Homo sapiens: one gene and its partner. The protein of the gene in region 1 purifies or fractionates together with the protein of each later gene. This does not show direct contact. Each region holds a gene or a part of one and is shown in the gene's direction. Other genes may lie near its edges.

Region 1 (3,923 bases):
GGGACCTGAGTGATCTGGCCCTTGTGTACCATCCTTACTGTTTTCCTCTACCTGCAAGCCACGCTGGCTTGCTTTCTGTTCTTTGAACATGCAAAGTTTGCTGGCATCCTAGGACCTTTACACTCTGATTTCCCTGCCTAGAGTGCTCTTCGCCCAGAACTTTTATGTCTGGCTCCTTATTGTCATTCACAGGGGCCCCCAGCCCCTGGACCATGGACTCGTACCAGTCTGTGGCCTGTTAGGAACCAGGCTGCAAGCAGAAGGTGAGCGGCGGGTTAGCGAGCGAAGCTTCCTCTGTGTTTACAGCCATTCCCCATCACTACTCGCATTACCACCTGAGCTCTGCCTCCTGTCAGATCAGCGGTGGCATTAGAGTCTCATAAGAGTGTGAACCCTATTGTGAACTGCATATGCAAGGGATCTAGGTTGCATGCTCCTTATGAGAATCTAAGGCTTGATGATCTGTCACTGTCTCCCATCATCCCCAGATGGGACAGTCTAGTTGCAGGAAAACAAGCTCAGGGCTCCCATTGATTCTACATTATAGTGAGTTGTGTAATTATTTCATTATATATATTATATATTGCAATGTAATAATATAAATAAAGTACACAATAAATGTAATGCACTTCAATCATCCTGAATCCATCCCCACCCCCCCAGTCCGTGGAGAAATTGTCTTCCATGAAATCAGTCCCTTGTTCCTGAAAGGTTGGGGACTGCTGGTTATTCAGGTTGCAGCTTGGTCTTTTCTGACAACACATCTTAAAGAAACCTTCCAGTCCTTCCTTAGCACATGAGCCGGTTTTATTTTTATTGTGGTTCTCATCTCTGAATGGTGTACAAACACCATTGGTTATCTGTTCAATACTCATCCCTCTTTCTTTTTTGCTAAAGAATCCTGATTTTGTTTGCAGTGACAGTACCCACCAAATACTCGCTTTTCTAGCCTCCTATTTCTTTAGAAATAGTTTGGTGTAAGTGAAATATAAGTGGGTGTGTGCTGGAAGTTTCTGGGAAGGCTTTTGCTCTCCTGCTGTAATGGGATGTAGATGCAGTGCTGTCCTCTTACATCTACCTGCCCCTTCCTTGAATTTAAACTAAACACTTGGGGTTTCAACAGTCCTATTTGATTCAGAGAGAAAGGCCAAGAGAATTGTAGAAGCTGTTCATCTGACATCAATTAATCAAAGTAGCAATGTCAGGCTGGTGAAAACAGTTCGTATTATTTGACATTGTTGTTATTGTTTTCTATTATTTCTTTCTTTGTCACTTGCAACAAAATCATTCCTAATTAATGTAAATGTTGTTGCCATTGATAGTAGGAGGAAGAAATGGAAATTTTATGATCAATTTAAGTTGATGTTGCAGTCATGCCTCCACTGACTACTGTTGGAGGTGGTAGTGGTTACACCAGAACAAAACTACCTATGCTTAGATCCTGACTGTGTCAGTTACTAGTTGTGTGACCTTATACGAGTCACCTAACCCCTCAATATTTCAGTTCTCCCATCTGCAAAAACATGGATGATAAGCCTAGCAGAGAAATTGTTGAGACAGATAGTAGGTAATATTAAGGAAGAGAATATAGAAGGAGTGAATGTAGACAGAAGATAAAGGAACAGTTGATTTTTATCTGCATTTTGGGATGTGGAAATAAGTAGAATCAATGAAGGAGGAGATAGAGAAGAAATCGTTCAGAAAATAGAAGGAAAAACAGGAAAGCAAAATATCTCAGAAATCAGGGAAATGGTATTTTAAGAAAGAAATACTCAGCAGTGTTGATTGCAGTAGAAATAATAGGAACTAATAACAGGCCTTTTTATTTGAGGGCTAGAAGAAAGTATTTTTTTAAGAGAGTGTTTTAAGTACAGTGAGGGGTAAAAGTTGGATACAAGGATTTAAGATTGTGTAGTGAGGAAATAGGATAGTTAACATCACTTGCACACTTAGTTCGACTATATGAGCTCTTGTAACAAAAAACAGGAATATATTTTTCCATGTATACTCTTTTTTATATACAGTCATACATTGCTTAATGATGGGGATACATTCTGATAAATGTGTTGTTAGGTGATTTCATTGTTGTGCGAACATAATTGAATGTACTTGCATAAACCTGGATTTGTGTAGCCTACTGCACACCTAGGCTGTGTGGATGGGTTGAGTATCCCTAATCTGAAAATCTGAAATCCAAAATGCTTCAGAATTCAAAACATTTTGAGTGCTGATATGATACTAAAAGGAAATGCTGTTTGGGACATTTAGGATTTCAGATTTTGGATTTTTGGATTTTCAGCTTTGGGATGCTGAACCAGTAAGTATATATAATGCAAATATTTCAAAATCTGAAAAAAATCCAAAATGGAAACACTTCCGTCCTAAGCATTTCAGGTAAGGAATATTCAAACTGTATAGCCTGTTGCTCCTGGACTACAAATCTGTACAGCATGTTACTGTACTGAATACTAGAGGCAATTATAACACAATGGTAAGTATTTGTGTATCTAAATGTATCTAAACATAGAAAAGATATTATAAAAAGATGGTATAAAAAATAAAAAATGGTGTACCTGTGTAGGGAATTTACCATGAATGGCACCTGCAGGACTGGAGGTTGCTCTGGGTGAATTAGTGAGTCTGTGGTGAGTGAATGTGAAGGCCTAGGACACTACTGTACACTACAATAGACTTTATAAACACTGTACACTTAGGCTACACTAAATTTATGAGAAAACATATTTCTTCAATAATAAATTAACCATATCTTTCTGTAACTTTTTTTTTTCTTTTGAGATGGAGTCTCGCTCTGTCGCCAGGCTGGAGTGCAGTGGTGCAATCTTGACTGACTGCAACCTCCGCCTCCCAGGTTCAAGCAATTCTCTGCCTCAGCCTCCTGAGTAGCTGGGATTACAGGCGCCCACCACCACACCTGGCTAATTTTTGTATTTTTAGTAGAGATGGGGTTTCACCATCTTACTGTAACTTTTTAACTTTATAAAGTTTTAAATTATTTTTAGCTTTTTGACTGTTTTATAAGCACTTAGTTTAAAACACAAACACATTGTACAGCTCTACAAAGATATTTTCTTTCTATTCTTATTCTATAAGATTTTTTCTATTTTTAAAATTTATTCTTTTCCTTTTAAACTTTTTTGTTAAAAATGAAAACACAAACATACACATTAGTTTAGGCCTACCCAGGGTCAGGATCATCAATACCACTATCTTCTACCCCTACATCTTGTCCCACTAGAAGGTCTCCAGGGATGGTAACACACATGCAGCTGTCATCTCCTATGATAACAGTGCCTTCTTCTGCAGTGCCTCCTAAAGCACCTGCCTGAGGCTGTTCTACAGGTAATTTCTTTTTAAAAAAGTAAAATGAGTACACTCTAAAATAATAAAAAATTGTATAGTAAATACTTAAACCACTAAGTCATTTATTATCAAATATTATGTACTGTACATAATTTTATCTGCCATACAATCAGTTTGTTTACACCAGCATCACTACAAACTTGTGAATAATGCATTGTGGAATGACATTATGACAGCTGTGACAACACTAGGTGATAGGAATTTTTCAGCTGCATTATTATCTTATAGGACCACTGTTGTATGTGGTCCTTGTTGACTGAAATGTTATTCTGTGGCACATGACTGTACTATTTACATAACTATATATTTTACATTTATACATATTACTGAACAGTGTTACATCCACAAGATTATGCATATCACCCTTTAAACAATTTAAAGACTTGTTAAAGGTGATTTTTGACAGTGCTTGATTTTGCAGTATGGGCTGACTTTAGAGCTTAACCCCTACATAGGGTATAGCTCTAGTGTGGTGAATATATGCTACATAGATATACACTGCCCTGTACTGGGGAATAATTTTACATATATGGTGGCAGGGA
Region 2 (3,923 bases), on another chromosome or scaffold:
GTTGCTACTGCTCCGATCCAGGAACTGCACTGATGAACACAGCAGAAGCAAGCTGCTTGTGGCCTCACCTCCCGAAGCTCACATGGGACTCCTTGGGCCCATGAAAAGGGAAACAGGACAATTTCCAGGATGGCTGCCCAGACTTCGTCAGGATCCTTTTGTGGGATGGCTCATGCATGCACACAGTTCACTCAGAGCACAGAGTGGGTCAGCCCACTACCAGGGCCCTGCCACCAGCGCCAGGTTCTTCTCTGAATGCTGTCACTCTTGGCAACATGGGCTTAAGTCCCTGTTGGTATAACTCCATTTTCTTGTGTCTTCACTTTGCAGAGGAATGTTTGCTGGGGGATTGAAGGAGATGGAACAGGAAGAGGTCCTGATCCACGGTGTGTCCTACAATGCTATGTGCCAAATCCTACATTTCATATACACCTCCGAGCTGGAGCTCAGCCTGAGCAATGTACAAGAGACACTGGTGGCTGCCTGCCAGCTTCAGGTGAGGCATGTCTCATCTAGCAAGGCAGACCCACACCCAGGTGGGGTTCCCTGAGATGCCCATGATGCCTGCCGGGCACTAGCATTGGCTTGAAGATGGGTCAGGAATGTGAGGAGACCAAGCAGTGACGAAGGCCATGAAGTGGGGAAGACTCTGGAGTTGTTCCTGGAGCTCAAGCAGAGCCGCTCTAGACACCCCAGGCCTCTGCCTTTGCCCTCTTCTCTATTGCTGGTTGTTTCCCCACTGTCTGAGTCTCCCTGTCATTGAAAGCATCCTGCACATAAGCAGGTAGGCTGACCCGAGGCTGCATGTGGACGTCCTGTGTGCTCTGGGGTCTGGCAATGGGGAGCATCCACCAGCATTGCTGCCAGGGCCCTTCCTGCCTGTCCCCTCACTGGGCCACTTCAGTCTCTTGAAAACTTATGTGTTTTGTTACTGAACTTTATCTATCTATTTGTCTGTCCATCCATCCATCCATCCATGCATGCACGCATCCATCCATCCATCCATGCATGCATGCATCCATCCATCCATCCATCCATCCATCCATCCATCCATCCATCTATCCATCCATCCATGCATGCATCCATCCATGGTGGCAGGCATCCATCCATCCATCCATCCATCCATGCATGCATCCATCCATCCATCCATCCATCCATCCATCCACCCATCCATCCATCCACTCATTCAATTTATTGGAGACAAGCTCTCTCTCTCTTGCCCAGGCTGGAGTGCAGTGGCACGATCACAGCTCACTGCAGCCTCAACCTCCTGGGCTCCAGCAATCCTTCTGCCTCAGCCTCCCAAATAGCTAGGACCTATAGGCATGTGCCACTACACCTGGCTAATTTTTAAATTATTTTTATAGAGATAGAGGCTTGCTTTGTTGCTTAGGCTAGTCTTGAACCCCTGGCCTCAAGTGATCCACCTCAGCCTTCCAAAGTGTTGCGATTACAGGTGTGAGCCACTGCGCCTGGCCTATTTTTTTTTTTTTTTTAAAGACAGGGTCTCACTCTGTTACCCAGGCTGTAATGCAATGGCATGATCATAGTTCACTGTAGCCTCCACCTCCTAGGCTCAAGTGGTCCTCCCGCCTCAGCCTTCTGAGTAGCTGGGACTAAAGATGCGTGCCATTGTGCCTAGCTGATATTATATATATATATATTTTTTTATAGGAATGGGGCCTTGTTATGTTGCCCAGGCTGGTCTCAAGCTCCTGGCCTCAGGTGATACTCCCACCTTGGCTTCCCAAAGTTCTGGGATTACAGGTGTGAGCCTCTGTACCCAACCTGTTATTGAACTTTAAGTACTTGTTTTCCTGCAGAATTCAAAAAGTTTTCTGAGGCTTTGACAGTGTGACTTATGTTTTGGATGATTATTCTCAGTGGTGTGGGTGCAGTTACACGGGACTGGGCCTGCAGGTGCCTTTGAGCTATCAGGCAGAGGCCTGATAGGAGTTGACAGTCACCTCTTCCCACATTTCTTAAAAGTGAAACAAAATGCTATGCTAAGTTCATCATTCTGACCTTTCTTCCCATGAGAGCAGGTTTGACGCAATTAAAAAAAAACAACTCAAGTCACAGGAAAACCAACCTGTTCGGGGGCATGTGGAGGTGCCACCCCATGTGACAGGGCCCTGGCAGCCTCCCTGTGCCCTGTTCTCAGATTGGTGGATAGGACCTGGATGCTGGGTGGGTTGATCTGAGATGACTGACTTGTCTCACCATACCTGCATGGTGAGTAGATGGAGTTGGCTTTTACAACAAAAGAATTTCCCCCTGTTCTTTTATTTAGAGATCTCTTCTGTCCCCACATCCCTGTCATTGTTGCTTTGGGAACCCTCATCCAATTCTCCACCCTGGCAGCAGTTAACTCCTGATTCAGCTGCCTCTGAAACATCTCCCCCAGCATGGCTCAGGTCCAGCTGTCCTATCTCCTCCTCCACACCTGCCACTCTCCCGGAGCTCCCCTGTCAGTCCCCCTGCTCTGTGTGTCCTGTGACCATCCTGCCAGTTCCCTGGGCTCAACCTCAGTGGCTCCTTGAGCCCGTCCACCTTCTTAATTCCCTGCGTCCATGTGAGGACAGGTCATCCTTCTCGGTATTGCTTGTAGCCATCTCTGTTCTGTGTTTCCATTTCCTTCCCTTTTGCCTGGCCTCCATCTGTATGTTTCTGCCATTTCTTTCTTCTCCCTGCAGTGATCACACACACTGAAACCAGATCATCTTTCTAACATCACTTTCCCTCTCTCACCAGTCAGCTTGGAGGCCTGCAGTCTCTCTCTGTTGGTTTGGCCAGTGCTCCCGACAGCCCTGGGTCATCTCCCCCAGTGCCTCAGAGGTCATCTCAGAGGCAGCAGCCTATCTTAGTTTTTTAACATATCAGGCTTCTGGGCCAGGCTTGGAGGTTCATGCCTGTAATCCCAGCACTTTTGGAGGCCAAGGTGAGAGGATTGCTTGAGGCCAGGAGTTTGAGATCAGCCTGGGCAACAAAGCGAGACCTCTACAGAAGCACTTTAAAAATAGCCGGGCATGGTGGCATGCACCTGTAGTTCCAGCTACTCGGGAGGCTGAGGTGGGAGAATCACTTGAGCCCAGGAGGTGGAGGCTTCAGTAAGCTGTGATCACCACACCACTACATGCCAGCTTATCTCAAAACAAAAAACAAACAAACAAAAAAAAACAGGCTTCTTCACAATATTGTTTTATAGCAGGTTTTACTTGGCATAACCATGTCAAGTCCATAGGCCTGTAGAATCATGTATGTTCACATAGCTAGTGACTTTTGGAGGCTTCCCCCATGTGTTGTGCCCTGCAGTAGGCCTGGGACCAGATTCTTCACGGTGTCCCCAGAGGCCTGAGTCTGATTCCCAGTAACACTGTCCTATTGGGTTACCCCAAGCAAATGCAGTCCCTTCTGTGAGCCTCGTATGGGGCTTTTGCACATCCTGAGCCCAGGCTGGTTCCTCTGTGAGATTTCACTGAACAGAAGGCCCACTGCTCTAAAAATAGGACTGAAAGGAGAGTCAGCAGGGTCCTCTCAAGGAGCTGCTGCTGCCCAGGCTTCTTCAGGGCTGTTTGTGCTCACATTCTGCCCAAAACTTGGTCTTCAGGACCCTGGCCCATGACAAACCAGAATTTTAGGAAAACCTAGTAGTTTGGGAAGAAGTGGCAAAGCAGAAGACTGGCAAAAAGGGAAAAAAGAAGGTCAAGTGAAGCTGGTCAGGGCCTAGCAAAGCACCATGGGGATACCTCATGTAGGGCACATACCTGCCTGACATTTGGTAGGTCTCATCCAGCTCTTAGCATGTCACCTTGCAAGCAATATTAGATGTCTTTTGAATTTTAAAAAAGTTATAGTTAGTGTTTATTGATAAGCTTTAAATACCTTGGCCGGGCGCCGTGGCTCACGCCTGTAATCCCAGC

What was found.
Region 2: the proteins of ATG4C (region 1) and KLHL22 purify together in Homo sapiens (affinity purification with mass spectrometry; 2 studies listed by BioGRID and IntAct, with this or other methods). This does not show direct contact.

Annotation. Positions count from the first base shown.
Region 1 is NC_000001.11:62,856,922-62,860,844, forward strand, and holds part of ATG4C (cysteine protease ATG4C), read left to right. Parts: intron 1-3,923. UniProt on the Homo sapiens protein: Cysteine protease that plays a key role in autophagy by mediating both proteolytic activation and delipidation of ATG8 family proteins.
Region 2 is NC_000022.11:20,467,923-20,471,845, reverse strand, and holds part of KLHL22 (kelch-like protein 22), read left to right. Parts: intron 1-330; coding exon 331-496; intron 497-3,923. UniProt on the Homo sapiens protein: Substrate-specific adapter of a BCR (BTB-CUL3-RBX1) E3 ubiquitin ligase complex required for chromosome alignment and localization of PLK1 at kinetochores.